Regions from separate parts of the Homo sapiens genome. Here all the other regions are linked to region 3. The links come from fine-mapping of genetic effects on gene expression. A gene starts in region 3. Each other region holds a variant in brackets. All regions are shown on one strand. Distances are between the middles of the regions.

Region 1 (6,408 bases), 20 kb before region 3:
AAGAAATAATGTCTTTAGGTGGGCATGGTGGCTCACACCTGTAATCCCAACACTTTGGGAGGCCCAGGCGGATGGATCACCCAAGGTCAGGAGTTCGAGACCAGCCTGGCAACATGGTGAAACCCCATCTCCACTGAAAATACAAAAAAAATTAGCCGGGTGTGGTGGTGCACGCCTGTAATCCCAGCTACTCGGGAGGCTGAGGCAGGAGAATCGCTTGAACCCAGGAGGCAGAGGTTGCAGTGAGCCAAGATCACACCCCTCCACTCCAGCCTGGGCGACGAGAATGAAACTCCATCTCAAAAAAAAAGAAAAGAAAAAGAAAGAATGTCTCCTCTTCTAAATGTATAGATTGTGTCATCTTTTAGTTAACAAGATGAAGAGATGGATGGCAAGAAGAGAAATAAAAATCAGAAAGGAGATGATCCTATTCACTTTTCGGAAGTGAGGACAAAACCAAATAGGGAAATGAGCCGCCGCAGGAATGAAGAAGCCTGTAACAGCTATTCCAAACCGGGAGAGCGTCCTGGGGCCAGGACTTCATTGGGATAAGATGTTGAATCTGGAACAAGATAGAACAAGGCTGGACATTTCCTGGATTATCCACGCCTACTCCTTAGAAACAAGCGTGAAGTCCCCACAATGCGAGCAGGCCTCTCACCAGGTTGCCTGTGCTGTCTGCAGTGCGGTATCTACCTCGAGTAGGAAGACGGCAGGAAAAATCAAAGTGTCTTGAAAATGCCAACACATTAACCAGCTTGAAGCCATACTCAAGTGCGATAATTCATATTCTGATTTATTAATATCCCAGTCATAAACCCCATGGCAATAAATACATCTGTGCCTGTAAAAAGAGGGCACACTTGAAAAATAACACATGTCCAGGAATATCTTACTCAGCAAGCAGGCAGAGCCTGCTCTAAATTGACGAACTTGGACACAGTGAAAACCAACAGCTGTCCCGCTTGGGAAACTAACAGTTGGGCTCCTTGGAAAAAATACCTGATTTAGAATCTAACGAATGTGTTTATAAAGGACCCATCTTCTTTTTTTTGTTTTTTGAGACAGAGTCTCGCTCTGCTGCCCAGGCTGGACTGCAATGGCAAGATCTCAGCTCACTGCAACCTCCGCCTCCTGGGTTCAAGCAATTCTCCCACCTCAGCCTCCTGAGTAGCTGGGATTACAGGCACCCGCCATCATGGCCAGGCTGGTCTTGAACCTCTGACCTCAGGTGATCCGCCCACCTCGGCCTCCCAAAGTGCTGGGATTATAGGCGTGAGCCACCGCGCCCAGCCAAGGATCCGTCTTCTCTAACATTCGGCTTGAAGAGAGACCCCCCCACTACTTTACAGTGATGCCTTCGGGAAGAACAGCCTTTTACCTCCCTAGGTTTTCTCCCCGCCTAGAGTTCTGTTTCTTACTACATTACATTTCCGCTCGCTTAGTGTTTTTCAACCCTCGAGCTCTCCTCAAACCGTTCCATTGTTTAAGATACTAACAAGGGGCTGCCCTGACCCAGGAGACAGTGTAAGTGTAGGGATCAGGGAACAGAAGCAGGAACGCAAGACGCCGGATACAAACGTGAACATGCTGCAGGATTCCACGTGCATCAAATTCTAGAAAAGCCAAAACCCACCCACATAGGTTGCTTAGGATGGGGTGGGGGGACTAAGAAGGGGCATGAGAACCTTCTTTGGGTGATGAAAATGTCCTATGTTGTTCTGCCTGAGGTCATGCTGCATTTGTCAAAATTCAAAAACACTGAAAATGAGTACATTTTATTGTATATAAATGACACCTCAATAAAAACGAAAGATGTGAGCAACATCCTGGGAAAAGAAAATGTGATTTCACCTTAAGTGCTTTAGCAGAATTCTATTATATGCCTCAGCTCTTACTCTTTCTTCTTTTTTGAGACAGAGTCTCGCTCTGTCACCCAGGCTGGAGTGCAGTGGCCACAATCACAGCTCACTGCAGCCTCGACCTCCCAGGCTCTAAGAATCCTCCCACCTTAGCCTCCTGAGTAGCTGAGATTACAGGCATGAGCCACTGTGCCCAGGAACTTACTCTTGCCTGTAAAAATACAGCTCTGAAGTGAAGAAATCCCAGGCGCCACATCAAGGAGGCGAAACTAGAGTCCGCAGGAGGCCAGCCCCGCACGAGGAGTTTCAAACACTAAGGATCCTGACAGG[G/A]AAAAGTTATATGAAGCAAGAAAGGCAATTTAAAGCGATAGTTTATCATATGAATGTTTCGTTCTTAAAAATGAACAAGCTCTATTTATAATGCCCATTTAGAAATGAATCCATTAAAAAAAATCAGTAGATCAGCACTTATTTTAATTACTGAGATAGAGTCACACTTGACAGAAGCAAGCCCTGCGGTATATGGCATCATCACACCACCGGTGGGTATTTTAATCCTAAAACTGAGACAGAGTTTACTTAAACATTTAAGGCTTGAGTTTCCTCTGTACAGTGTGGAGGTGATTAAGAAAATTAATCCTAACATGAAGATTTTTCATCCAGTTAAAAAAAGAAATACTTTAAAAACGACCTGCCCTTCCAAAACATGAAGTTAACTTGGAGTTTTTCTGTGATATGACAAACTAGGCATAATCCTATCTCGGAATTGTTGAGTAGAAAATTTATGTACTAATACTCCTGTTAAAATTCAACAGCTTTATTGTGAAAGAATCCAGAGATCTCACACTGAAAAAATACTAACACAGCTCATATATAAATTACTTATCTATAAGAACAATTATAGAAGGAATCTAAATGGGGCAATTTTAACAAACCAGGCAAAATATCACATATACCTGAATATAAGGTAACTCCAAGCCATGAGTATAAGATTAAGGCAGTTACTTTATTTTGAACAAGGAAGTGGCATAAGCAACTCAGTGTGTGCCCCTTAGGGTGGGAGCTCTTCCCCCTACCACTCCCCACCCCAAGGCATCATTTTGGAGAAAAAAGTGTCTTCTATCTGGCTAGCTGTGTTATCTAGGATTGCACCTTCTTACACGGCAGGCGCGGCATCACGTCCAGATGGGCATCTAAGGAACTGCATTTCGGGAGATGAAACTTTCATTTGGGACTCAACTGAATGCATGAACTAACACAGGGCCATGGACCCACCAGTCTTGATTGAGTTACAGAAAATGAAGGTGACTCTTTACACTTCCAAGTTGCTTTCTAGATCCTTTCATTACAAAATATTCTGATCAAATAATCTTACAAAGGAAAGATAATCTAGCCTCAAGGCTATCCTCTAAAAGCAAAGAGAAAGTGATTGATTTTCTGCTCAGTCATTACATTGGGGACCTTTACGAGGCACGTGTTAGTTCCCAGGCAGCACTGCTAGGCGGTCTGTGCCAGAAATTTCACGTACTGCCCGCGGGCTTCAAAATGGTCAGCGGGCCGGTTGTACGCTGTCCACACCGGTTCTCCCACAAACAGCCGCATGGCCTTCGTGTAGTTCTGGAAAACAGACAAACACACCCAGCATCTCATTAAACCAGCCGGCCTTCTACTTAGTATTTATTAACATATCAACTTGTTAACATTAATTGCTATAAACACTTTACTTGCTATTTTTATTCTGCGTCTTTAACAATTTAGGCCACATTTTATTCGTGGAAGGAAAATTTGTATCAGGTGGTGCAGCTGGCCCTGCCTGTCCTCACGTGCCAGGTAAGAGCATCTGGAGCTGAGGCTTGGTGTTGAACTCCGCACCTCCGTGCTCTCTATAGAGACACACAGTCAGGAAAAGCACTGGCTCCAACCCCATGTACCCTCCACCTCCTCTCCGCCTCATTTGGCTACAGTTTTCCTAAGAATTAGCATCAGGGCCCACATGTTGCTGGTGGGCAGGAGAGGACAATTCAGCCACATCCGTCCAGACTAAAAACGCACGTGCCTTTTAATTCAGTTTTTACTTTTAGGAATTTACCCTACAGAAAAACACACAGAAGTGCAAAATGACAAGCATGTAAGGGTATTTATTACAGCCCTGTTCACAAGAGCAAAAAATTGAGAACAATGTATATACTCATTGTTGGGGGTCAATGACTCACTGAAATAAATTAATGGTTAAATACAGTACAGCATGTCCAGCGCCAGAGTACTGTGCAGCTGTAATCAGGGCTGAGGCTTGTAGACACTGAAATGAAACAGTCCCCAGTGAACATCATGTAGAAAAAAGTAAAATGTAGAACCATGGGAGGCCAAGGTGGGTGGATCACCTGAGGTCAGGAGTTTGAGACCAGCCTGGCCAACATGGTGAAACCCCGTCTCTACTAAAAACACAAAAATTAGCCGGGCGTGGTGGTGTGCCCCAGTAATCCCAGCTACTCAGGAGGCTGAGGCAGGAGAATCGCTTGAGCTTGGGAGGTGGAGGTTGCATTGAGCCGAGATCAAGCCACTACATGCCAGCCTGGGCGACAAAGTGAGACTCCATCTCAAAGAAAAAAAAAAAAAAAAGAATCCTGACTGACATGCACTTGGATATGTGTAAAGTCACTCTAAAAATAATTTTTTTAGTGGAATACTGGTTACTTTCAGGGAGAGAAACTGGGAGGCTGGGAACAGGGGTCAGAGGGAGACCTTTCACCAGGTCCCCTTTCATATTTCTAAATTTTAAACCATGTGCATTTAGTATTTATTCAAAAATTACCCTTAAATCAGCATTACCCCAATCGCCTCCAGTGAACCCCAAAACTACCTTATCTGTGTTTATTGCCAATCCTGACTGGACTGCGTTACTGTTCAATTCCAAAACTGAAATGTTTTTAAAAGTGACAGTATGGCAACATAACAACCCTACAGGCGCCTCACCACCAAACACGGGCTGGGGTGACAACCCTAGAGATGCCTCACCGCCAAGCAAGGGCTGGGGCAGGGCCAGGCTCGTGGGTGTGTACCTGCCGCCGCATGTACCTGCCGCCGCCTGTACCTGCCCCGCCTGGGTATGAAATGCACACCTGTCCACCAGGATCGCAGGCAGGGGCCACGGAGGCTGCCACGGAAGGACAGCTGTCACCTCGGACATCGCCTGCGGCTCCACAGACTCTCCTTGAAGCACAGGTCGAGGAGTCCCGAGCCCAGCGACCGCGCTTGGAGTCTGCGGAAGCCGCGCAGTTCAGCGGCAGAGATGCCACGGCCAGGGCCACCACACAGGCCGGGCCTGGGGAGAAAGCACAGCACTCCCACCTTCTCGTCCACCGTGAAGCGGTGATAGATCCCCGCGGGGAGCGTCACCATGTCTCCCTTCTCCATGAAGATCCGGATCCACTGGTCCTCCTTGTCCCTCACATCGAAGTACCCACTGCCATCCAGGATGTAGCGGATCTCATCGTCCAAGTGCAAATGCTCCTCGTAGAACATCTTAATCTAGTGCAGAAGGAACATTCCTGTGAGTCTACCAGAGACCTGTCACGCAAGCTCACACCCACCCACTCAGCAGCCTGAGCCTTTGGTGGGCCAGAGCTGAGGTGAATGGGACTTCTCTCCATAAAAATGAAACTACACTTGCTAAGAATTATTTTCCTAACAGTACAAGGGCCAGAGCTAGAATATTTTATGAAACCTGTCAACAAATGGGCAGTAACTGAAAGTGAACAGACCTGAAGCAAAGGTTCTGAACACTTCACACAGGCCAACTCACCCAACCCGCACGGCCCCACGAGGTGGCTGCTCTATCAGCCCCGTTTTACAGATGTGGAAATGGTGGCACAGAGAGGCTAAGTCACTGGCCCAACCTCACACAACGAGACTGCCCCAAAGACACCCTGGCCCCATGCTCACACCCACCCAGTGTGCTGCACACAGCAGTCATGAAATCACAACACACAGGGTGAGTGAGAAGCCAGTGGACATTGCAGGGAGGCAGGCACAGACTCCACAAGCATTTTCTATGTCTTCACATTGACTTTTGTGTATTTTTTTTTTTAGGTGGAGTCTCGCTCTGTTGCCCAGGCTGGAGTGCAGTGGCACAATCTCAGCTCACTGCAACCTCCGCCTCCCCGATTCAAGCGATTCTCGTGCCTCCCAAGTAGCTGGGATTACAGGTACCTACCACTATACCCAGCTAATTTTTGTATTCTCAGTAGAGATGGGGTTTCAACATGTTGGCCAGGCTGGTCTCAAACTCCTGACCTCAGGTCATCCACCTGCCTCGGCCTCCCACAGTGCTGGGATTCCAGGTGGAAGCCACCACGCCTGGTCTGACTTTTGTGTCTTTCTGAAAGTGTTTTCTTCCTAATATTTTATAATAAAAATATTCAAGTATGCAAAAACATTGAGAGTATTTTACAGTAAATATCCATACCCCCTTCACCAAGACTGTGCCCTTATAATCTGATTCTGCCTGCACTGTTCATATCTCCACACCTCCCGCTCCACACACACA
Region 2 (8,280 bases), 33 kb before region 3:
TCAAAGTGGGGTCCCCGAAGCAGCAGCACCAGGTTCTCCTGGGAACTTGACGGAAATGCACATCCTCAGCCACATCCTCTGATCACAGAGGAGTCAACTGCTGGGGCCTGGGCTGGGCCGGCCCGACAGTGTCGTCTGCACCGCCCTCCAGGAGCTTCTGGTGCTCCTGCAGGTGTGAGAACGCATGTCAGACGCCGGAGGCCACAGACAGAATTCCAGTTACACAGCAGGCGTTGGAGCCCATGGGCATCGCCATCCTGCCTTACACTGCTGGCCTCTTCTATGCCCCCTCGAGGATTGTGCCCCCACTTGTTCTCTCTGCCTGGACCCCTCCTGGCATGCACCTTCCTAGTCCCTATTCAGTGTCACCCCCTGAAGCCTGCCCTCAACCCCAGGACAGTGCAGCCCCGTCCACACTCCCCTTACCTCTTGTCCTGGACCCACACAGGCTCCGCAGCACCTGCTCCTGGCACGGCCCCACAGTTGCAGTACTTGGGCTGGAGCTGCCGCCATGAGGTCCTCCTTCAAACACCCAGTTCCAGCGTTCCCCGGGAAGCTTCCCATGCCATCTTGTCACGTCTTGCACCCAGCACCGAGGGTGAGGCCCGGCAAAGCAGAGCTGCAGGGGCTCAGCTGTGTACACCACAGTTCTTGAGACGCCCACCTGTGTGTCCTCCCCGATCCTGCTCCACAGGTCCAGGCCCAGGCCCAGAGGTAGCCCCTGCGTTCCCGTGGCTTCAGGCACACGTGTGCAGACATGACGCCGAGAACACCGGCTTTGCCACCAAGGACAGAAGACAGTCTGCCCCACCCGGGGTCACCTGCAGGTCCTGCTCTGACCAGGGTCCAGGCCCTGATTCCGGGGATGCGACAGCACCCAGAATGTCCTGCCTTGTGTGGCACGTGGGACCGGGGACTCGGGCCCCAGGGCTCCCAACCCTGGCTGTGGAGAGTGGGTGGCTCCGCTGCTGGTCGGGGGCACTGTGTGGGCAGACAGCGTGCCAGTGGCCACAGGATGTCCTGACAGCAGAGGCGCTAAACACTCCAGGAGCGCCTCAGCCCCAAGCTCTGGTTCCACCCCTTGCGGGTGAGGGAGGCCCAATGACAGCCAGACTCCATCAGTTCAGAGGCAGGGGCTAGAGATGGATTTAATTCAACTTAAAAAGAAATACAAGAATGGACCTTTTCTGCAGTCCTGAGGGAGTGGACAGGTTGCGTGCGTGCTCTGACGGTGGGATCCAGACCCCCTCCTCTCCTGCGTTGAAGGTGCCACCGGGCCTCATCCCCAGCCACATCACATCCTGAGCCTCTTACAGGCAGGCCCCGAGGTCCTTTCACCTTTCTCTTCTCTCCAGTGCTTGGTGCATTTTCAAACTCAGTACCTTTCTTTTGAATAAATGAGCAAGAATAAACCCGGTGCTGCTTGCCGAGCTCCTCTCCCTGGGCGGGGAACTAAAGCAAAACCACGCTGGATGGGGTCCCAAACACCCTAAGAAGGCCGAGCTCCTGCCGCTCTCCAGCACGCGCACCGAAGACCGGAGGGAGGGTCTGTCGCTCTCCTGCAGGAGCACGAGTGGAGGGAGGGCCTGCGGCGCTCCAGCAGGAGCATGAGGAGTGGAGGGAGGGCCTGTCACTCTCCAGCACGCACACCGAGGAGTGGAGGGAGAGCCTGTCGCTCTCCAGCAGAAGCACCAAGGATTGGAGGGAGGGCCTGTCGCTCTCCAGCAGGAGCACGAGGAGTGGACTGCCGGCCCGTCACTCTCCAGCACGTGCACCACGGAGTGGAGAGAGAGCCTGTCACTCCAGAAGGAGCACCAGGAGTGGACTGCGGACCCGTCACTATCCAGCACGTGCACCAAGGAGTGGAGGGAGGGCCCCTTGCTCTCCAGCAAAAGCACCAAGGATCGGAAGTAGGGCCTGTCGCTCTCCAGCACGTCCCCCCCCGGCAGTGGAGGGAGGGCCCGTCGCTCTCCAGCATGAGCACCCAGAGATGGAGGAAGGGTCAGCCATTTGTCAGGCTCTGCGTGTGAAAAGCTGTGATTTCATTTCTTATCAGTTATTACTGTCACTATCACTCAGGATGAAATTGGCCTCACCCGCTCAGGAGCAATGCTGCCTTCTCCCTGTCCTCCTCCTGGATTGTTGAGGAAAAAGCCAGACTAACCTGTTCCACACCTTGGCATCAGTTGCATAAATGCTATCTCAGCATGTTCTAGAACACAGTACTGTTTAAACAACGTTCTGGGGGTAACCAAGTTTATAACTTGCAGACCCGATGGCCGTAAAGCATGGGGTGGGGGGGTGCCTGCCTGCATTGCAGCTGTCAGAGCTGCACAGAGCCTGCGACACCCAGCCATGGCTTCTGCCCACCAGGCCACGTCCCTCCGCTCCTCTGAATCCTTCCAGTTCTTCTTAGGCCACTTAAACGCCACCGTCTCCACGAAGTCCTGTCGGATCACCCTCATAGGAAGTGACAAACCACGTTTTGAACCCCTCTCCCCACCCAGCAAGCCCCTAGCCCGCGAGCATAGGATTTCCTTTCTAGAACACGTGTTCTGTGAAGGGCCAGAGGCAATATTTGAGGCCTCGTGGGCCACATGCTGTCCCTGTTGCATATCCTTTTTTTTGTTTGGTTTGGTAAACTGCTTAAGCTGGCAGAACAACAGAACCCGCACATTCTCCACGCAGCCCAGCGCCCTTGGCCATGCAGGGCTGTGCCTTCTGCCAGCTCTGGAGGCCCAGGGGCTGGCATGGGCCTCCCGTCCTGAGCCCCCCATGTACATTGCACCCATACTGGGAACGCCCCCAGGATCTGCTGCGAGACCCCCAAGGACCAGCTTCTGCAGTCCTGGAAGGGCTCTCCTGACCCCCAAGTCCGCCATCTTCTGATGGTGGCAGGTGGGCACAGTCACTGGCTGAGCGACCAAGGGTCAGTGAGATTACTAGGCCGGCGCTGCACCCAACTGAAATGAACTCACGTGTCCTCACAACTCCTAGCAGCAGATGCTGTCAGCCTCGCATCCTACAGGAAAGGAACCATCGCCAAAAGACGCTGAGGAACATCCCGAGGGTCACAGGGACAGTGCAGAGCCAGGACCAGCCCGGCCCATGGTCCCCCAGCGTGCACCACCTGGCCCGGCACTGTGTGCTCAGCCATGAGGACTGGGAAGAGTCCTGCCCACAGCTCAAGTGTCTACACCGCACTGCCATCCAGGCTGTGAGCCGCTGCTGAGCATGGGGAATGTGGCTGCTGCAGAGACGTTATGAAACACTTCTAAAAGAATGTAAAAGATCTCATTAATAATTTTGAGTACCTGTTAAAATGATAGTAATTTTGGATCTAGTAGATTAAATAAAACATATTATTAAAATTAAGATGACCTTTGAACATTTTTAACGTGGCTACTAGAAAACTTTAAGTTACGTATGTGGCGCCCATTTGTGGCTCCCATTCTGTTTCTGTTGGATGGTGCCAAAGAAACCAACACGTAAAAGCCCCTGCAGAGGAGCCGCTGCTTTGCCAATGGTTAGTGGTCAGTGTGGGTTCTGCCCTCTGGGTTCCTGGCAACCAGGGCTGCTCTCTGAGGGCTGAGGTTGCCACGGGCTAGGCAGATACTGGCCCTGCAGCCCTCACTCTCCGGAGGGCGTGGGGCATGGGATGGGATGTTTCAGAGGACGTGGGGCATGATGGGACGGGAAGTTTCAGTGGGTGTGGGGCATGATGGGACGGGGTGTTCCGGAGGGCGTGGGGCATGATGGGACGGGATGTTTACTCTGCTCCATGGCCTTACAGTGTTAAGTGTAAGTCAGCATTGAAAGCAGTTTTCCCTGGAACATAGAATTCTAGTTGATGCGGATCCAGAACCACGGAGGGTCCTACAACTGCTAGGCTGAAGGCTGACTTACCAAAGGCCACAGAGCATCTCTCCCCCAGCAGGTTCCTGTGGCACTTGCATGTGTGTCTTTTTCTTTTTCCCCCAAATAATTTTCCAGTTTTATTCTTTTCCTTTGACATAGAAGAACACAATTACCGAGAGAAGAAAAGGAAGGCGAGGGTGACTGCGCGCCTCCCCATCCCCACCCCCATTCCCACACGGCTCATTTCAACTCTGGGAGGGTTTACAGGTAAGAATGTGAAAATCAGAAACGTCAGGTAACTTTTCCAAGGACCCACAGTTTAAAGCGGGAGAGAGGGAGGGATTCCAATCCAAATCTAACAGTGAGGCTCATGGTGGTGCCACGATCTGTGTTGCCGTTTCACACACTGCATATTGCTTTGCAGTGGAGAGCTGAATCCACAGGCAGGGCCGGACCCACCAATGGGCTGC[C/T]GTGGATAGGCTTTGGGCTCCAGCACCACACACATGGCCACACGCTTACACATACAACACACACATGCACTCACACACGGAGGACCGTGTTCACCTGCGTCTAGGTCCTTTCCACCTCGAGGTTTACCTTTATTGGACCTGGAACCCGATTACGGGCAGTCTGTTCCCGCGTCGCCCACCCTCGTCCGTGGGAGAAGTGCCATCTCCGGGACCGTGTTAGGCGTCCAGCACAGCCAGCCAGGCTCTCCAGCCTCACTCCCTCCACCCCAGGGCCCCGAGGCTCTGCCCACCGAGATGACACCCTGCGACCTCCACCCTGGCTCCTTCTGGTCACCCTGACACCCACTCCTCAAATGCCCACAGTGAGCCTGGGGTCCTGCTGCCTGTGGAGTGGACCCAGTGCGTCTCCCTAAAGCCTCCAGCTGGCTTGGCCTTTGTCTCAGCCTCCACCTGCTTCCCGGGGTCAGGGAACCCTGCCAGCTCCCTGGGCGTGCTGAGCTGGACAGTCAGCGAACTGCATCCCTGAACCCTCGCCCACTGCTCCAGGAAACTCACCCACCCTCAGGGCTGCTGGAATTCACATCCGATGGGTGGAGTTTATTCTCTGCACCCCAGGGCCCCCCACACATGTCAGGAGGAAGAGCTGCCCTGGCACCATGGGTAGACTGCAGGGAGACCCCAGGATGCGGGGAAACCCCAGGATATGGGGAGACCCCAGGATGCGGGGAAACCCCAGGATATGGGGAGACCCCAGGATGCGGGGAGACCCCAGGATGTGGGGAGACCCCAGGCTGTGAGAAGGCCCCAGGCTGCAGGGAGACCCCAGGATATGGGAGACCCCAGGATGCGGGAAGACCCCAGCATATGAGAAGGCCCCAGGCTGCAGGGAGACCCCAGGATATGGGGAGAAGCCAGACTGCAGGGAGACCCCAGGATGCAGGGGAGACTCCAGGCTGTGAGAAGGCTCCAAGCTATGGGAAGACACCAGGCTGTGGGGAGAAGCCAGACTGCAGGGACACGCCAGGATATGGGGAGAGACCTGGCTATGGGGAGAGCCTGGGCAACAGGGAGAGGCCAGGCTGTGGGGAAACCCCCAGATGGGGACAGAGGCCAGGCTGTGAATGGGAAACTGCGTCTGTTTCCTGAGGCTGCCGTAAGACACTCCTAAGTATGAGAGCACAGACTTGATTCCCTCCCCATTCTGGAGGCTGCCGTCAGCAGGCCATTCCTAGAGAGGCTCCTTCCTCTCCTCTTCCGGCCTCTGGGGGCTCCCGGTGCCCTTGGCTTGTGGCCACATCACTCCGGTCTCTCCTCTGGTCACACAGCCTCCTCCGTGTGCCAAATCTTTTGCGGAGCCACTTAAGATGGTATTTGGGGCCCACGGTAATCCAGAATAATCTTCTCATCTCAAGATCCTTAAGCTAATTACATCTGCAAAAGCCCTTTTTCCAAAACAGGTCACGTGCACAGGTCCCAGGGCTTAGGATGGGGCCGTGACCTTGGGAATGCTCAGCGGCCAACCACAAACGCCCACTGAGTAGCTTCCTGGGGCTGCTGTAACAAGGTGCCCAAACAGAGCAGCTTAAAATAGAACTGCATCTTCTCACAGTTCAGGGGGCTGGAAGGCTGCACGCGAGCTGCAGGCTGGCTGCATTCTCTGGAGGCTCTGCAGTGGCGTCTGTCCCAGGCCTCTCTCCGTGGTGGCCATGGCAGTCCTCGGTGCTCCTGGCTTTCGGCCACATGGCCCCAGTCTCTGCCTTTGTGTTTATGTGGCCTCCTCCAGTGTCTCTGTCTTCTGTTCCTGCAGAGACAACAGTCTTTGGAGCTAGGGCCCACCCTAGTCCAGGATGATTCCATCTCAAACCCCTATTTAATTACATCTGCAAAGACCATTTCCAAAAAGGTCACATTCCGAGGTTCCGAGCAGACATGAACTTTTAGTGGACGTTATTCGAGCCCCTCCACCTCACAGACAGGCTCTGGTGGACTCCTCACCTCAACCCTGCTCCAAGGGTACATGATGTCCCCCTTTACAGACAGGGAGACTGAGGCACAGCTTGAAGAACCTGCCCACGGCCACACAGCTACTGCAGCAGCAGAACTGGGGTGATTCCATCTGAGCCTTCATCCATGCAGACACCTCCAAGCCCAAGGCATCCACGGAGGGCTCCTCCCTCGTCTTCTCCACACCCCAAGCTCACAGGGATGTTTCTCTGTGGAGGTGGAGCAGGCAGTGCTGCCCTGGGGCCTCTATCCTGGGATCTCTGGGGCCAGCTTCAATGTCATCATGGGTGGCCGCTGGCCCAAAGTCCTGCTCAGCAGCAGCAGCAGCAGGACAGGCCTCTGGAGAGCATGCCTCTGTCTCTGGCCCTGCCAGTGGCGTCCTTGTGTCCTTGGGGACCCCACACACACACATTCTTCTGCAGAGGCAATCAATAAAGCCGGGGCACCAAGGAGGCTTCAGGAGTGATTAGCAATGGAGCAGGCTGGAAAATACGCGGACGCTAGGGCAGATCGTATTGATTCCATTGACTTGCCCTTTGCCAGGCTGTTGTATTTATAACTCAGATGAAATCCTATTTGGATTTTAGAATGGGTGGGTTTATAACTCAGATGAAATCCTATTTGGATTTTAGAATGGGTGGGTTTATAACTCAGATGAAATCCTATTTGGATTTTAGAATGGGTGGGTTTTTTTGAACAGTTGGTGCAAAATAAACACAAGCATTTTTAACATGGACAATGAAACACATTAAACTATAATAATAAAGGCAGGCAGGCAAGCACGTCCATGGGAAAGTGGTTTCAGTTGAAAAGTAAGCTCCACCCCAGAACTGTCACACCTGCACTGCTCACGCCAGGGACAGACCGTGATAGGAGCACAGCCTCCTGTCCTCCAGCCCCCGCCCAGCCCAGCTTCCCCAGCCCTGCTGACCTGGGGGCTGTCTTCATGCCTGGATGCTTCTAGTGCCCTGCCCCCGCCACGTTTAAGAGAATGTTTTGAAAAATAATCACTTCCCAAGGCAGAAAACAGAGAGCAAAACACAGAGCGATTCAGAAGAGCCGCCTGCTCAGGGGTGCCCCGGATGTTATCTGCAACCTGGCACGGCCCGACTGCAGGCCTCAGCCCTGTGCCCTGGCCCCACCTGAGCAATTCCTCTGCCCTCTTCAGGGCCCAGCCAGGTGGTCACAGCAAATCTGGTCAGGACCAGGGACAATCAGCCCGCAGGGACGTCCTGCCTCAGCCATCCACTTGATGGTGACGACTGCCCCGACCCCTCTCTCTCAGCAGCTGTGCCTGCCTGGAGCCCCCGTACCCCTCACCCGGCCGTAAGGGCTGCTGCACCCTCTGCTCTCCTCACTGGACTGTGGCGTCCTGAGGAACCCACCAGCCACTTTCTTATGCATCTCGGCACTCAGGGGACAAAACCAGCTCTCCCGGAGGGGCTTGTGGGACCGAGTTTCACTGAGAGACATGGTGAATGGAAGAACTTCACGCATCATAGCAGGCAGAGGACTCCGGGAGCCCTTGACCCAACCCACAGGTCATCTTACCAGTACTAGCGACTCACTGCGGTAGTGAGTTGGGTGAGGCCCAGAAGTCCCTCCTGGTCACTTGCGATGGGATGAAGATATTTTTGAAACCTAGAGAGACAGGGTTATCTAACAGAGTAAGAAAGCCAGGGCTGGCTTCTTTCCCCTCGGAATGAAGTTCAAGCCTCCTCTGTCCCATAAGTGCACAAATGTCCACCGTGCTAACTTTACACGCTCCATTTTTACTTTGGGCAAGCAGGATTTGCAGCGCGGGAGAGATGACCTGGACATGAGCCGGCAGTGGCCTGCGCACCACAGGAGGCCCTTCAGCCGACGGCCATGTCTGCGCTGCGCGATCCTGTCCCTGTCAGAGCCGCTGACCTGGGTCTAGTCCCACAGAACCTCTCCTGGAGCCTTG
Region 3 (8,280 bases):
GACTGCCTGCAGGGTCAGGCAAAAACACCCATATTTTTCTTCTTGCAGAGAGCCTATAAATGGGCGTGCAAGTAGAGAAGGTATCACTAAATTCTTTTCCTAGGAAGGAATATTAATATTAATACTCTGGGGAAGGAATGCATTTCTGGGGGGAGGTCTATAAACAGCTGCTCTGGGAATGTCTGTCTTATGCGGTTGAGATAAGGACTGAGATACGCCCTGGTCTTCTGCAGTACCCTCAGGCTTACTAAGGTGGGGAAAAACTCCACCCTGGTAAATTTGTGGTCAGACCAGTTCTCTGCTCTCGAACCCTGTTTTCTGTTATTTAAGATGTTTATCAAGACAATATGTGCAGCACTGAACATAGATCTTTATCAGTGGTTCTGCTTTTGCCCTTTGCCCTGTGATCTTTGTTGGACCCTTATCAGTGGTTCTGCTTTTGCCCTTTGTCCTGTTCCCTCAGAAGCATGTGATCTTTGTTAGACCCTTATTAGTAGTTCTGCTTTTTGCCCTTTGAAGCCTGTGATATTTGTACCTACTCCCTGTTCTTACACCCCCTCCCCTTTTGAAACCCTTAATAAAAACTTGCTGGTCTGAGACTCAGGCGGGCATCACGGTCCTACCGATATGTGATGTCACCCCTGGCGGCCCAGCTGTAAAATTCCTCTCTTTATACTGTCTCTCTTTATTTCTCAGCTGGCCGACACTTATGGAAAATGGAACCTATGTTGAAATATTGGGGGTGGGTTCCCCCGATACTCCAGAACATATTAAAGTACTAGTCATCAATACGTTATTTTCTACAAAGTTGACTCTAAAACTTAGCCTATCCACTGCATGATATGCACAGTACTATTTGCTATGGTCTGAATGTGTCCATATTATGACACATAATATGTAATATGACACATTATATGACACGTGTCATAAGTTTAAATATACGAATGTTGAAACTTAACACAAATGTGATAGTATTAAGGGGTGGGACCTTTAGGATGTGATTAAGTCATGAGGGCAAGCCCTCATTTATAGGATTAGTGGCCTTGTAAGAGAGATGGAGCTGGGCACTGTGGCTCACACCTATAATCCCAGAACTTTGGGAGGCCAAGGTGGGCAGATCACCTGAGGTCAGGGGTTCAAGACCAGCCTGTCCAACATGGTGAAACCCCATCTCTACTAAAAATACAAAAATTAGCCAGGCATGGTGGTCCACGCCTGTGATCCCAGCTACTCGGGAGGCTGAGGCAGGAGAATCACTTGAATCCAGGAGGCAGAGGTTGCAGTGAGCCAAGACTGCGCTACCAGCCTGGGTGACAGAGCGAGGCTCCATCTCAAAAAAAAAAAAAAAAAAAAAAAAGAGCAAGAGAGATGTAAGAGAGCAGTTTGCCCCTTCCACCACATGAGGACAGAGCAAGGAAATGGCCGTCTATGAGGACAGGATCCTCATCAGACACTAAATCTGCTGGCACCTTAATCTTGGACTTCTTAGCCTCTAGAACTATAAGAATTCTATAAATTGCTGTTGTTTATAAATTGCCCAGTTTAAGCTATTTTTGTCATTTTGTTATAGCAGCAGGTATTTAGTTTATTCCAAGCTAAAATAATCTTCCAATTGTTTGTATGTATGACAAAAGGTTTTTTAGAACTCTATGTCACTAATAACAGATTGATTAAACAGATACACAAACATGTCCACATGTGTTACCTCTGTTAAAAATTATGGGAGATGTTACATATATATAATGTTAATATGGGGTGTGTGTGTGGCTTTTTTGTTTTTTGGGTTTTTTTAGAGATGAGGTCTCAAACTTCTGGCTTCAGGCAATCTGCCGCCTCAGCCTCCCAAAGTGCTGGGATGACAGAAGCCACCATGCCTGGCCCAGGAGAGGTCACTGTTTTGGACTGAGCCCCTGCACTAGGCCCCAGGATGAGACCAAACCAAAATGCAGCCACTCATGCCATATGCCACTTGATCAAACTAAAACTTTAAAGAAGGAGGTGCATCTCAAACAGACCAGCTTTTCCTGCGATCAGAAGATTCCAGTCTTCCTGAGTCAGAATAATAAGGAAGTCGCTTCTGCTTTAACCCTTAGGAAAAAAGTAACCTAATGTAACTTGACGTTAACCAATCAGCTTTTCTACCTATTGTTCTGTTTCTTTGTTGCCGCCCTACAAAACCCACTGTTGTGCTATTACCCTATCGAGCTCTTATTCTATTTTGTAGAACGGAGGTTGCCCTATTCACAAATCAAGAATAAAAGCTAATTAGATCTTTAACTAAATTTGTTGTAATTTTGTCTTCCAACAGCACTGATCCAGAATGGATATTAAGAAAGCATATAGGCCGGGTGCGGTGGTTCGTGTCTATAATGCCAGCACTTTGGGAGGCCGAAGTGGGTGGATCACCTGAGGTCAGCAGTTCAAGATCAGCCTGACCAACATGGAGAAACCCTGTCTCTACTAAAAATACAAAATTAGCCCGGCATGGTGCTGTGCACCTTGTAATCCCAGCTACTCGGGAGGCTGACACATGAGAATGGCTTGAACTCGGGAAGATGAGGTTGCGGTGAGCCGAGATCATGCCACTGCACTCCAGCCTGGGCAAAAAGAGCAAAAAAAAAAAAGAAAGGAAGAATATAAAAACACACAGGACATTAAAACCACAGAGTAAACATGATTTAATTTTGATAGCCCTGACTCAGAGCAGAACTAGACGGTAGGAAAAACTATGTTTGAGCCCATGTAATAATCTAAAAGATGTCTATTAAAATAAATCTTATTTTATTCTTTGAATACATTAAGAAGCTGACCTGTAATCTCACTCTTGTTCTTGTTCTTAAAACCGTCAAATGCACAATGAAACTCCCCAAGTGTATTAATTTGAACCCTCTGGTTGTTTGGATTGTGGATAAACATAATAAGTCAAAATTTATTCTCCTCTCATTAATGGAAAACTATAAACCACTTGATTGCTTTGAAGAAGTACCCTCCAGCAAGGTAAGTGTTAAACCTTATCCTAGGAAAAGACAAATACTATGTAAACATTAACATGCATGCCCTGTTTCGCACTGGTATGCCAATTGTCACTTCCCTCTTCTGTTATTTAGGATAGAACAAGATGATATCCAAATAGATTATGCTGGAATATTCTATAATCCTTTCCCAAGGGAAAAAGTGTGGTGTCCAGGTAACCCTGTGTATTTCATTTAAATCACATGAATGAAGATTAGATCCAGTCACCCCTCAGCCTATCCCTGAGGCCTACCCTGGCCCTCTCTTTTGCAGTAAACCTTTGTTACTGCAAAACCATTTGCAAATAAACAAGGTGAGCGGATCTGGACTGGTGCTGTGCAAGCAACGGGACACCGGTGCAAAGCCTAGCCCCGCCTTGCAAAGCTAGCGTTACAGAGGCAGGGCTGACACCGGGCCCAGCCGGGACCCAAGCCAGCTCCACCGCCCACTGGAGACGCCCCCACCCCACCACCGAGCGCTACCCCCCGGGGATCCCCGACAGACCGCGGCAGGACCCCGCCTCGATCTGCTGGCGCCCGGTCCCTCCCCCAGGACACTTTCAAGCGGAGTCCCCCTTCCTCCGATAGAAGAAACCCCTGGGCCTTTGACCGAGGTTAGCCAGGCAGGCAGGGCGTCGGACAAGCCCAACGAGCCCACGAACTCGCAGCCCGCCTCCGGCGAATCTTGCAGCCCTGCCGGCCGACCCTTCAGGTCGCTGCCAATCCCGGAGCTGCGCGTGCGCAGCGAGTCCCGGCTGCGAGGCCCCTGACTCGCCAACTCTGCTGCTGAGCATGCGCAGCACACCCCAGGCAACAGAAACGGACCGCCGACCCCCACCAGCCCCGCTGCTGAGCATGCGCAGCCCACCCCAGGCGCCGGAAGCCGACCGCCAACCCCGTAAACTTCGCTGCTGAGCATGCGCAGCACACCACAGGCGCTGGGGGCTGACCGCCGACCCCTCAACGCCGCTGCTGAGCATGCGCAGCACACCCAGGCGCCGCGCAGGAGGCCCTGACCACCCAGCCCCACTGCTGAGCATGCGCAGCCCACCCCAGGCACCGGGAGCCGCCACGAACCCCCAAATCCCGCTGCTGAGCATGCGCAGCATGCCGCGGCTCCCAGGCCGCTGCCCGGCACCTGGAGGAGGCTGGGCTGTGCGCGGCGTTTGGGGGTCGGCGTCGCCCGCACGCTCTGCGAGGCTTGGGCTCGCGTACCTTCCAGTAGAGCACCCCGAGCCGCCGCAGCTGCTCCAGGCCCACTGGGCGGCCGGGGTCGGGGCGGTGGGGTTGCCGCGGGTCGCCCGGGGCGTCGTCCATATACCAGGCCTGCACCATGACGCGCAGTGCGGGTGCCGTGTTCGAACCCAGGGGCCGCGCTCGGAGCCCGTCGGCCGCGCTTTATCTTATAGGGAGGCGTGGACGCGCATGGGAGCCGGGATTGGGCGGCTGGTTGGAGGCAGGGCCGGCGCGGGGGAGGCCCCACGGCTCCGCTGTTTTCGGAAGCAAAGGCATTCAAGCCCCGACCCTGTCCTGGGCACCCTCGGACCTGCCTGAGGCCCGCGGCCCGGGGCCAGCCGTTCGCCAGACGCGCCGGGCAGGTGAAGCTCACCGTAGGCATCGCACGTGCCTTGTGTGTGCTGCCGCGGTCTCCCTGCACCTTCAGAGCAATCTTGTGAGGCAAACGACGTTAAACGTGTTTAGAGTATGGAAAGCAAATGCAAAAAAAAAAAAAAAAGAATAAGGATTTTGTTAAGCTCATGCAGTCCATATGGGCACAGTTGAGACTTCACAGCTCGGATCCCAGGTGAGACATTGTCCTCCACCTCCCCGCTCGCCAGACTTTTGCAGTGTCGGCATTCTGCAGTGCTACCCTGTACTTTTTAAACTTCCTCTTGTTTCCTCTTTTCATCGTTTCTCCCTTCCCCATACACTGTAATGTGCTAGTCTTAGAATAAAAACAAGCTTCCCCTATCCCATTCTGAATTTTTCAATGTAGCTAATAAAGTCCAGCCGCTTGACCATCCTAGATGTCTTTTCAAACCAACGAGTTGAAAAAGATCAGATTATCTCAGCCATTCCCTCAGTCTCTTTAACAAATAACGATAAAGCAGACAGGATTTAAATGAGACTGCTGTAAGAGCACAACCCCAATGCATGCAATTGACTCTTGAACTTCCAGAAATATTGCAAGAAAAATACACACTTATTTCATTTCTGTTCCCTTGCTCTAATGGCTTTGCAAATACATCCTCCTTAGAGAGCCTACCTCTCCACCTCTTCACTTGACCAGTTACTACTCATCCTTCAAGAACACACCTTAGACGCCATTGCCCATTTTTCTGCAGCACTCATGACAAACCTTCATGCAAGAATCTAATGGCAATCTCGCACCTCGCATTTTCTCCTTAAGCCACTGCAATAAGGCTTCGCTTCTCACCACTGGGGAACTGCTAATGACTGCCATATTGCCAGATCCAATCATGGCACTTCTGTTCTTACCAGCAACATTCGTCACAGTTGCCCACGCCCTTCTTGAAACATTTTCTCATTTTCCTTCATGAGGGCATCTTGGCTGCTCCTTCCCAGGCCCCTCCTAGCTCCTGCTCCTCTAACCACTGGTTAGTGGAGCGTTCCAGACTCTCCTCGTCCTGTTCCTATCCACTCACTCCAGGCGACTTTCCATGCTGTGCTGCCGGCTCCTGCAGCCACATCTCCAACCTGGACCTCATTCCAGAACCTCAGGCTTGAGTATCCAGTTGGTGTTGTCACATACATGGCTAATCAGTGTGTCAAACCTAACATGGCCAAAACAACTGATTCCCCACACACACCCCCAAACATGCTTCTCCCTAACCTTTCCCGTCTCAGTGAACGGCAGCACTGACTGCCCAGTGGCTTAATAAAAAAATCTAGGTGTACTCTCAGTTTTGCTTTTCCTCACCCTCAAGATCCAATCCAATCTATCAGCAAGTCATGTTGCTTTGACCTTCGAAACACACCGCAAATCCATTCACTTCTCTCCAGCCCAACTCTTTCTGCAGTCTTTTCTTGCCTGATGGAATTGACTACTGAAATTCCCCCTCCTCACACCGCTTCCATTTTTGCCCCAGTGCAATCCATTCTATGCACAGCACCCAGAGTGACCTTTTAAAAATAGGAGCCAGATGCCAGGCACTGTGGCTCACGCCTGTAATTCCAGCACTTCGGGAGCCCAAAGAGGGTAGATCACTTGACCAGCCGAGGCAACATGGTGAAACCCCGTCTCTACTAAAAGTACAAAAATTAGCTGGCCGTGGTGGTTTGCACCGCTAGTCCCAGCTACTCTGCAGGCTGAGACAGGAGGATTGCTTGAGCCTGGGAGTCTGAAGTTGCAGTGAGTTGAGATTGTACCACTGCACTGTAGCCTGGGTGACAGAGCAAGACTCTGTCTCAAAAAACAAACAAACAAAAAAACATGGAATCCAGTCAAGCCCCTTTTCTGCTTCAACCCTCCTTTCTATAGCCTCGGCCTGACCACCTCACAGCCCATCGCCCTCCTTTCTTGTTCTCTGTCCTCCAGATACTTTGGCCTTTCAGTGTATTTGAGTCATATGCTCCTCCTTCCTTTGGGCCCTTCACCCATGCAGTTTTTCCACTGAAAATGCTCTTCCTTCCTCCAAGTACTTTTCTCCTATACAAAATTCTAATTTCAGCTTAACTATCCCTTTCGTAGAGAAGCCTTCTCTGACCACTCCCTAGACAACTAGATGGGCTCTCCGTGTGAAACACTGCCATGGTGCTAGCTTAGAGTTTGTAAGGACATGTTGACTTGATGTCTTTTCACCAAAGGACTGACCACTCCATGTGTTGTTTGGTACTTGCTGAATGAATGGATTTGTCTGTATTGCTGAGTGCCGCATATACCTTGAGGTCAGAGAATGTGTCTTATTAGTCCTTCAGTGCTTGGTACATAGTAGACAATTTTTTTAAAAGTTTGTTGAATGAAGGGATAGGATGAGGAACACTCCAAATAGTCTTTACTGTCTTACTGTAACTGCACTCCTATCTCATATCTAATGCTTCTCATTTACTAGAAAATAGTAGTACTAGGCTGGGTGCTGTGGCTCATGCCTGTAATCCCAACACTTTGGGAGGCCAAGGTGGGAGGATCACTTGAGGCCAGGAGTTCCAGATCAGCCTGGGCAATACAGCAAGACCCCATCTCTACAAAAAATATTTTTATTAAAAAGAAAATAGTAATTGTGACAATAATAATAGTAGTGTGTGCTGGGTAACATTTTAAAGATTTGATGCATATTATTATTTTTACTCCTCATGATTACACTGTGAAGTTGGTATGACTTATTATCCACATTTTAAAGATGAGACATGGGAGGCTGAGGCAGGAGGACTGCTTGAGCCCAGGAGTTTGAGACCAGTCTGGGCAACACAGCAAGACCCCATATCACTTAAAAACAAATGAGACAACTAGGACACAAACAGGTGAAGTAACTTATGGTCACACAACCAGAAGTGACAAAGCTGGTATTTGAGCTTGGGGAGCCCAGCCCAACAGCCTGTACACATAACTGCTAAAATCGAGTACAAGAAGTAATGATGTGGGTTTCATCCCATCGTAGAATAAACTTCATCTTGAAATTGGAAGAGTGCTTCCGGTTCCCCTCCCACCCCCAGGCTGCGGCAGCCCCACACCATTATGTATCTACCATTTGTCAGCCTCTGTCTTCAGTAGCTGTTCCTTTTTTCCTATTAGGTATGGGGGAAACAGTTTTATGCCATAAAAAACATACTTTAGAAAAGCAAGATGATGGAGAGGCTCTGAGGAATTGCCAAGGCAGCCCAGCACTTGCTGCTGGCAGGAGTTCAAGCGGGCAGAATCAGATGAGAACAGCACTCATTACTTCATACGGACATTGCCGGCCCATGGGATTCCTCCTTTGAAGAGGAATCTTTGGAACTTGAACTGTCTCTTCCAGAAGAATAGCCAGCAGCAGCCCAAAAATATGTTTCATGACCAGAATTTATCACCCCGATGTAAGACACTTGGGAAGAATCTGTTTAGATGTTTTGAAAGACAGATGGTCGCCATCGCCGCAGACCTGCGCAGACTGTTATCCGTCTGGGCTTTGTGATATGCTCCCAACCCAGGGGCGCGTTAACAAACCATATAGGGATACAGTAGAGCCACAGAAGAACAGGAAGATCCAAACTGCTGGAATGTGGAACGCAGATAAGGCTCTATAGACGGGCAGCAAGTTTTCTCTGGAAA
Region 4 (8,280 bases), 46 kb after region 3:
TTTGTTTTGAGGATGAGATTTTAGATGAAATAATAAATGTATGCATAGCCTATTCCTGACACATGACATAAACTCAAATAAAAGTCACTATTGCCATTATCTATTATACTCTGTAAATTAGGAATAACAAAACCATTTCTGCTTATTTCTCAGGGTCCATTCAAGAATTGTGCCCACAATATACCAGGCACTTGTCCAGACCTGCATCGTCCAATGCCCACCTCGACCTCCCAAAGTGTTGGGATTAGAGGCGTGAGCCACCGCGCCCTGCCTGCATGTGGCTATTGAGATGTGCTGTATGATACACACCGGACTTTGAAGACTCAGTGTGAAAAATAAAAAGAATTTTAAGAGGGGTGGGGGTCGAGGGGAGGCAGAGCAGTAGGACAAATAGCTAATGCACGCAGGGCTTAAAACCTAGACAACAGGTTGATGGGTGCAGCAAACCACCATGACACATGTTTATCTATATAGCACCTACATGTTCTGCACTTGTATCCTGGAACTTAAAATTAGAAAAAAAAAATAATAAAAGCCAACATGGCATTCATTACTGCCAAAAAAATTAAAACACATTGTTAATTTTGTATATTGATTACAGGTTGAACTGATAATATTTTGAATATATTGGGTTAAAGAAATACATTTAAAATTAGTGGCTAGGCACAGTGGCTCATGCCTGTAACCCCAGCACTTTGGGAGGCTGAGGCGGGTGGATCACCTGAGGTCTGGAGTTCGAGATGAGCCTGGCCAACATGGTGAAACCCCATTTCTACTAAAAATACAAAAATCAGCCGGGTGTGGTGGTGAGTGCCTGTAATCCCAACTACTTGGGAGGCTGAGGCAGGAGAATCGTTTGAACCCGGGAGGTGTAGGTTACAGTGAGCCGAGATTGTCCCACTGCACTCCAGCCTGGGTGACAGAGTGAGACTCCATCTTAATAATAATAATAAAACTATTTCTTGCTGTTTTACTTTTCTAATGTGACCACCAGAAAAGTTTAGATGGCTTGTGTGACTCTCATCATTGAACGGAGCTGTTCTAAACATGGGTAAGACAACGCAGAGCTTCGGTTGCAGGACAGAGAATGAAATAATAGACCCATAAGACAGATAAGTGACTGATTGTGACTGCTAGGGTGTTTACAGCATAGGCCGGTGACAGGAACGAGGAGTGTGGGGATGAGAGCCGACGTGGGCGAGAGTGCATGCAATGCAGGGTCAGACGTTGGATTCATCTCTCAGGAGTTGAAAAAGGTGGCGTTCCTGTTCTTTATTGGCATTGCTTGTGACACGAGGATTGCCCCTCTTCCTGAAGAGGTTGGTCAGGAAAATTTTTTGTTAACTTTTATTTTAGGTTTGAGGGTCCATGTGCAGGTTTGTTTCATGAGTAAACTCATGTCATGGGGGATGGGTGTACAGATAATTTCATCACTGAGGAATAAGCCTAGTACCCGATGGGTATTTTTTCGGATCTTCTCCCTCCTCCCATCCTCCACCCTCAGGTAGGCCCCGTTGCCCACCGTTCCCCTCCTAATATCCCTGTGTTCTCGCTGTGGAGCTCCCACTTATAAGTGAGAACACGCGGTGTTTGGTTTTCTGTTTCTGCCTTAGCTTGCCTCCACCTCTATCCATAGTGCTGCAAAGGACATGATCTCGTTCCTTTTTTATGGCTTCATGGTATTCCACGATGTAAATGTACCACATTTGCTTTGTCAAGTCTACTGTGGATGGGCATTTATGTTGATTCCACATCTTTGCTATCATGAATAGTGTTGTGGTGAACATACACCTGCATGTGTCTTTATGGTAGAACGATTTAGATTCCTCTGGGTATATACCCAGTCATGGGATTGCTGGGTTGCATGGTAGTTCTGTTTTAAGTTCTTTGCAGAATCACTATGCTGCTTTCCGCAATGGTTGAACTAATTTGCACTCTCAATATTATATTGTCTATAGCTGAGAAAGCTGAAATGTAAAGATTAAGTCACTTGTCCTCAGACATGTAGACAGGAAGTGGTACAGCCAGGACTCAAACCTGCCTCCAGAGCCCGTCCTCCTAAACCTAAGTCATGGTTTTCAAAGTGTGGTCCTTGGATCAGCAGCAAAAGCACCACCTGGGCACTCATTAGACATGGAAATTCTGGGCCTCAACCCGGACCTCAGCATGGGAATCCCTGGGGGTGGAGCCCGGCGGTTTGTGTTTGGGCAGCCCCAGCTGACTCTGAGGCACCATCAGGTTGGAGGCCACAGTGGGTGATAGTCCCTGCCCTGTGGTAGCAGCCGGCCTCCCTCCTTCATTTCTGTTATTCCATCTCCTTCTTAAAACAACCCTGTGAGGCTGGCAGGGCAGATGTCGATTTTATTTAACAGATGAAGAAACTGACCCTTGAGGTTTTATGACTTACCCAAAGTCATCGCATTAGTTTTGGAACTGAAACTTCAATGGCAGATCTTCTGGCTGTTAGTCTGAGACTGGAACTAGTACCCACAAGGACTCTGGGAGCAGTAAGGTCAGAGCAGGAGCTACTGCTTCATTTCATTGCCTCTAGTGAAGGAGGAGGGGGGTTCCCAGAGCACGGCTTCTCCATGGGTCTAGCCCATGATAGCTGGGTGCTTACCCTGATGTGCTGATGAGATTCTGCCTTATCTCCTGCAAGCCATTTGTGCTGTGCTAGGATTAAACAGTACACTTTGGAACCTTAGCTGCCCACACCCTGAGAGCCAATCACGCAGAACCCACAGGAAATCTCGGGGCAGAAGTAGTTTGCCATAAATGTCCATTTTCTCATTTTTTGTTGTTGTGACGGGGTCTTGCTCTGTCGCCGAGGCTGGAGTGCATTGGCGCAATCATAGCGCACTGCAGCCTCAACCTCCTGGGCTCAAGTCATCTTTCCACCTCAACCTCCAAAATAGCTGGTATTACAGGTGTGCGCCTCCTGTATAATTAAAAAAAAAACATGTTTTGAGGCCGGGTGTGGCGGCTCATGCCTGTAATCCCAGCACTTTGGGAGGCCAAGGCGGGTGGATCATGAGGTCAAGAGATTGAGATCATCCTGGCCAACATGGTGAACCCCCGTCTCTACTAAAAATACAAAAAATTAGCCGGGCGTGGTGGCAGGCACTTTTAATCCCAGCTACTTGGGAGGGTGAGGCAGGAGAATCGCTTGAACCTGGGAGGTGTAGCTTGCAGTGAGCTGAGATCACACCACTGCACTCCAGCCTGGGCAAAAAGAGTGAAACTCTGTCTCAAAAAAAAAAATGTTTTGAGGTTACAGGGAGCTATGATCACACTACTGCACTCCAGTCTAGATAACAGAGCGAGACCCTGTCTCTGAAAAAAAAGAAAAAAAATTCTTTGTAGAGACAAGGTTTCACTATATTGCTCAGGCTGGAATCAAACTCCTGGCCTCAAGCAATCCTCCTGTATTGACCTCTCAAAGGGCTGGGATTACAGGCGGGAGCCACTGTGCTCAGCCTGCATTTCCTGATGCAACTCGTTCACATTCCATCCATTATCAACAATCCCCACAACTTCACCTCCTGCCATGGATGCCTGAGGCTGGGGAAGGGGAACTTCATTCGGGTGTGGGCGTCACCTTAGCCACAGAGAACCTAAAAGAGTGATCAAGCCTCACCTGAGGTTGGGAGTTCGAGACCAGCCTGACCAACATGGGGAAACCCCATCTCTACTAAAAATACAAAATTAGCCAGGTGTGGTGGCGTGTGCCTGTAATCCCAGCTACACGGGAGGCTGAGGCAGGAGAATCGCTTGAACCCGGGAGGCGGAGGTTGTGGTGAGCCGAGATCGCGCCGTTGCACTCCAGCCTGGGCAACGAGAGTGAAACTCCGTCTCGAAAAAAAAAAAAAAAGACTGATCAAGCCGACTGAAAGTCAGGGTGCTCTGTTATTATAACTGAGCACCGGGAATTCTAAACACTGTCAGTGATAAATACTCTTCCCAGAAAAAAAACTTTCTTGTAATTATATGTGTATAATTCCATTTTTATCCCTAATCTTTTAACAAACATGTCTTACATGGGAGTTAATCCCAAGGGCTCCCAGCTATGCACTTGGTTCCAACACGTCTT[C/T]GTTCAGCCACAAGAAGTTTATTTGGTTCAGAAGCAGAGTGCTAGCTTCAGGCACAGTTTGATCCAGCTGATGGGCACTGCAACCTCCTGCATGTAAACAGCAGGTTTGAAGTGAACCGTGGTAGCACTATGACTATAAAGACAAACGAGGAGAACTTGCTTTACTTCACTTCATTCCATGTGATCACTTGTGCTTAAAATTTGAATCAGTGAAACAGGGCGGTGGGAACCGCAAGCTGAAATATTTTTGTTATAGTGTGGATTTTAGCTCATATATTACACATTTTACTGAATTCAAATAATGTCTTTAAAATTGAAATTTAGCCAGGAGTGGTGGCTCACGCCTGTAATCCCAGCACTTTGGGAGGCCGAGGCGGGATTTCGAGACCAGCCTGGCCAATATGGTGAAAACCTGTCTCTGCTAACAATACAAAAATTAGCTGGGCGTGGTGGCACGGGCGTGTAGTCCCAGCTACTCAGGAGGCTGAGGCAGAAGAATCGCTAGAACCCGGGGAGCCGAGATTGGGCCACTGCACTCCAGCCTGGGCGACAGAATAAGACTCTGTCTCAAAAAAATATTAAATAAATAAATAAATAAAATACAATTGAAATTTATTTTTTTTGGCCAGGTACGTTGGCTCATGCTTTGGGAGGTCAACGGAGGAGGATTACTCGAGGCCAGGAGTTTGAGACCAGCCTGGGCAACATAGTGAGATCCTGTCTCTACAAAAAAATTTAAAAATTAGCCAAGCGTGCCTGTGGTCCCAACTTCTTGGGAGGCTGAGGTGGAGGATTGCTTAAGCCTGGGAGGCTAAGGCTGCAGTGAGCCGTGACTGCACTACTGTACTCCAGCCTGGGTGACAGAGTGAGATCTTGTCTCAGAAAAAAAAAAAAAAAAAAAGGAAAGAAATTTATTGTTTTTTAAAAGTGTAATTGTTGGGTTTTTTTTTTTTGAGATGGAGTTTCACTCTCGTCACCCAGGCTGGCGTGCAGTGGCGCGATCTCGGCTCACTGCAACCTCCACCTCCCGTGTTCAAGTGATTCTCCTGCCTCAGCCTCCCCAGTAGCTGGGATTACAAGCACACGCCACCACGCCCAGCTCATTTTCGTATTTTTAGTAGAGATGGGGTTTCGCCATGTTGGCCAGGCTGGTCTCTAACTCCTGACCTTAGGTGATCTACCTGAGGCCTCCCAAAGTGCTGGGAGTGCAGGTGTGAGCCACCATGACCTGCCAATTTTTGGTTTTGAAACCGAAGAATAATTAGGAAAATGATGATTATTCCTATTACATGATTATAATTTAAAATAGTTTTGTTGAATGGATACGGGTGCTGAAATAATGCATTCTGGGTATCAAATGGATGCTTGGAGTGGATGGATAGATTGGATACCTGGTCCCTCCAAATCTCATGTTGAAATCTGATTCCTGGTGTTGGTGGTGGAGCCTACTGGGAGTCTTGGGGTCATGTGCCTCTTGGTGCCATCCTCTTGTCCCCTCGGGAAGGAGTGAGTTCTTGCTCTGTTAGTTTTTGCCAGAGCTGATGTTGAAACGAGCCTGGCACCTCCCGCACTCCTCTCTTCCTTCCTCTCTTGCCATCTGATGCCAGCTCCCCTTCCCCTTCTGCCATGAGTGGAAGCTCCCTGAGGGCCTCACCAGAAGCAGATGCTGGCGCCATGTTTCTTGTACAGCCTGCAGAACCTTGAGCCAAATAAACCTCTTTTCTTCATAAGTTACCCAGCCTCGAGTATTCCTTTATAGCAACACAAACAGGCTCGGACAGAACGCCACTGCTGCCTCCCCAACCCCTGTGAGTCCTTCCATGTACACACCCGCCTCGGAATCTGCTCATTGTGGGAGGACTCTCCAGCTTACCCACTGAGACTGAGTAGCAGTAGACATGCCCCCTTGCGGCCCAAGGAACGACTGGTTGGTACATTACTGTGCTAATGGCACTTTAATTGCAGACTTTCAGGGACAAGAAACTTTTGTGTTTCACCCCAGTAAATGACAGGCCCTAAAGTAAACTGTGAAGGACAATGCCAGCAAAAGTTTGAGGCCTGGCGCTCTTTACAGTAAGGCTTTGTGCGGTGATCTACCCGTTCCAAACCTAAGTTTCCTCGCTGGCAAAACAGGGATAAAGTTTCTGGTGCACAAATGCCACAGAATTGCTGTGGAGGTCAAGTGGCGTAGTCCATGTGACACCCTGGAGGACTAAATGATGAAGACAAAGGTGTGTGTGCGAACCATTTTCACCCAGTCCTCTCCTGCTCACCGCCTCTCTCTGAGCTGGGACGTTCACATGCATCGACTTCGGATTCCAGCTCTAGGTTTGCTGGTTGTGTGCATCTGCTGCATTGCTCCAATTCTGTTCTCTCCTGTGAAAAATGGAGATAACTGGCCAGGTGCAGTGGCTCACACCTGTCATCCCAGCACTTTGGGAGGCCAAGGCAGACAGATCATCTGAGGGCAGGAGTTCGAGACCAGTCTGGCCAACATGGTGAAACCCTGTGTCTACTAAAAATATAAAAATTATCCGGGCATATAGAGGATGAAAAGAACCAGTGTTCTTTTCATCCTGTACATATTTTGTGACAATTAATGGTAAGAATAGTGTTTCTTTTGATGAGATCTATCAAAGGTAAGCAAATTATCAATTTATGATAAAAATCGAGTGCAAATATTTCTATATTTTAAATATTAATATATGAGCAATTACTTTCCATATACCCACAGGTCGCCCATGTCTAGAGACGGTTTACTGCCATACAGGAAAAGTGGCCTTGACTTTACAGAGCAGGCCTGTGACCTTGCTTCAGTTAAGCGTGTGCTAACCCAGGAGTTCACTCTCATTACAGCCTGGCATATTCATCTCACTTGCACTGGTCCACGGACGATGATAATAATAAAGGCTCTGCCAGCTGTAAGTGGAGGGGAGAGAAAGGACCTTCTGTTAAATGCAATCCATTAATTCTTGATCGAGCAGACAGGTCCATAACTTCATCTCACATGCAAGGACTCATTAGTAACTTTCCTTCTGTCACTCCGTTATTAACATTAAGATTCGGAGGGGAAGAATGACTTTGAAGCCTGTGGCCTCCTCACCTATCTGACCTCTAGGCTTTCTGCAGCACAGAGATTATACATTCCAGGCACAGGATCCTACATAATAGAGAAGAAATTATATATAAAATATATATATTTTTAATAAAGAAAAGAATATATATATATTTTTTTCTTTAAATGTTTTTATTTATTTATTTATTTTTTTATTGATCATTCTTGGGTGTTTCTCGCAGAGGGGGATTTGGCAGGGTCACAGGACAATAGTGGAGGGAAGGTCAGCAGACAAACAAGTGAACAAGGGTCTCTGGTTTTCCTAGGCAGAGGGCCCTGCGGCCTTCCCCAGTGTTTGTGTCCCTGGGTACTTGAGATTAGGGAGTGGTGATGACCCTTAACGAGCCTGCTGCCTTCAAGCATCTGTTTAACAAAGCACATCTTGCACCGCCCTTAATCCATTTAACCCTGAGTGGACACAGCACATGTTTCAGGGAGCACAGGGTTGGGGGTAAGGTCACAGATCAACAGGATCCCAAGGCAGAAGAATTTTTCTTAGTACAGAACAAAATGAAAAGTCTCCCATGTCTACTTCTTTCTACACAGACATGGCAACCATCCGATTTCTCAATCTTTTCCCCACATTTCCCCCCTTTCTATTCCACAAAACCGCCATTGTCATCATGGCCCGTTCTCAATGAGCTGTTGGGTACACCTCCCAGACGGGGTGGTGGCCGGCCAGAGGGGCTCCTCACTTCCCAGTAGGGGCGGCCGGGCAGAGGCGCCCCTCACCTCCCAGAAGGGGCGGCTGGCCGGGCGGGGGGCTGACCCCCCACCTCCCTCCCTGACGGGGCGGCTGGCCGGGCGGAGACGCTCCTCACTTCCCAGACTGGGTGGCTGCCGGACGGAGGGGCTCCTCACTTCTCAGACGGGGCGGTTGCCAGGCAGAGGGTCTCCTCACTTCTCAGACGGGGCGGCCGGGCAGAGACGCTCCTCACCTCCCAGACGGGGTCGCGGCCGGGCAGAGGCGCTCCTCACATCCCAGATGGGGCGGCGGGGCAGAGGTGCTCCCCACATCTCAGACGATGGGCGGCTGGGCAGAGACGCTCCTCACTTCCTAGATGGGCTGGATGGC

Evidence for each region. PIP is the estimated chance that this variant, and not a neighbour inherited with it, causes the effect. A credible set is the group of variants that fine-mapping cannot tell apart.
Region 1: its variant is the best candidate, but not a certain one, in a credible set for the expression of ADI1 in whole blood (INTERVAL, PIP 0.87).
Region 2: its variant is the best candidate, but not a certain one, in a credible set for the expression of ADI1 in whole blood (GTEx, PIP 0.52).
Region 4: its variant is the best candidate, but not a certain one, in a credible set for the expression of ADI1 in esophagus mucosa (GTEx, PIP 0.76).

What each region holds. Positions count from the first base shown.
Region 1 is chr2:3,495,604-3,502,011 of GRCh38, forward strand. It overlaps ADI1 (acireductone dioxygenase 1), which reads right to left. Exons shown (of 4, transcript NM_018269.4): 3 at 5,211-5,390; 4 at 1,763-3,479. The coding sequence ends at 3,360. Among named protein-coding and RNA genes, the nearest start is that of TRAPPC12-AS1, 16 kb to the left of the region's middle. The variant G/A (reference allele first, on the strand shown) is at 2,193.
Region 2 is chr2:3,481,720-3,489,999 of GRCh38, forward strand. TRAPPC12-AS1 (TRAPPC12 antisense RNA 1) reads right to left here and starts at 1,534. Exons shown (of 2, transcript NR_046720.1): 1 at 427-1,534; 2 at 1-166. It also overlaps the pseudogene LOC112268321. The variant C/T (reference allele first, on the strand shown) is at 4,329.
Region 3 is chr2:3,515,142-3,523,421 of GRCh38, forward strand. It overlaps ADI1 (acireductone dioxygenase 1), which reads right to left and starts at 4,390. Exons shown (of 4, transcript NM_018269.4): 1 at 4,227-4,390. The coding sequence starts at 4,346. It overlaps LOC124907725 (a long non-coding RNA gene), which reads left to right and starts at 4,405. Exons shown (of 2, transcript XR_007086195.1): 1 at 4,405-4,815; 2 at 7,765-8,280. RefSeq lists silencers at 3,297-3,496, 3,977-4,036, 4,117-4,436, 4,507-4,636 and enhancers at 4,056-4,577, 4,578-5,098.
Region 4 is chr2:3,561,164-3,569,443 of GRCh38, forward strand. It overlaps RNASEH1-DT (RNASEH1 divergent transcript), which reads left to right. Exons shown (of 3, transcript NR_038429.1): 3 at 154-587. LOC124907726 (a long non-coding RNA gene) reads right to left here. Exons shown (of 2, transcript XR_007086196.1): 2 at 7,319-8,280. Among named protein-coding and RNA genes, the nearest start is that of RNASEH1-DT, 6.9 kb to the left of the region's middle. RefSeq lists enhancers at 3,377-3,426, 3,477-3,526, 7,122-7,727, 7,728-8,280. The variant C/T (reference allele first, on the strand shown) is at 4,091.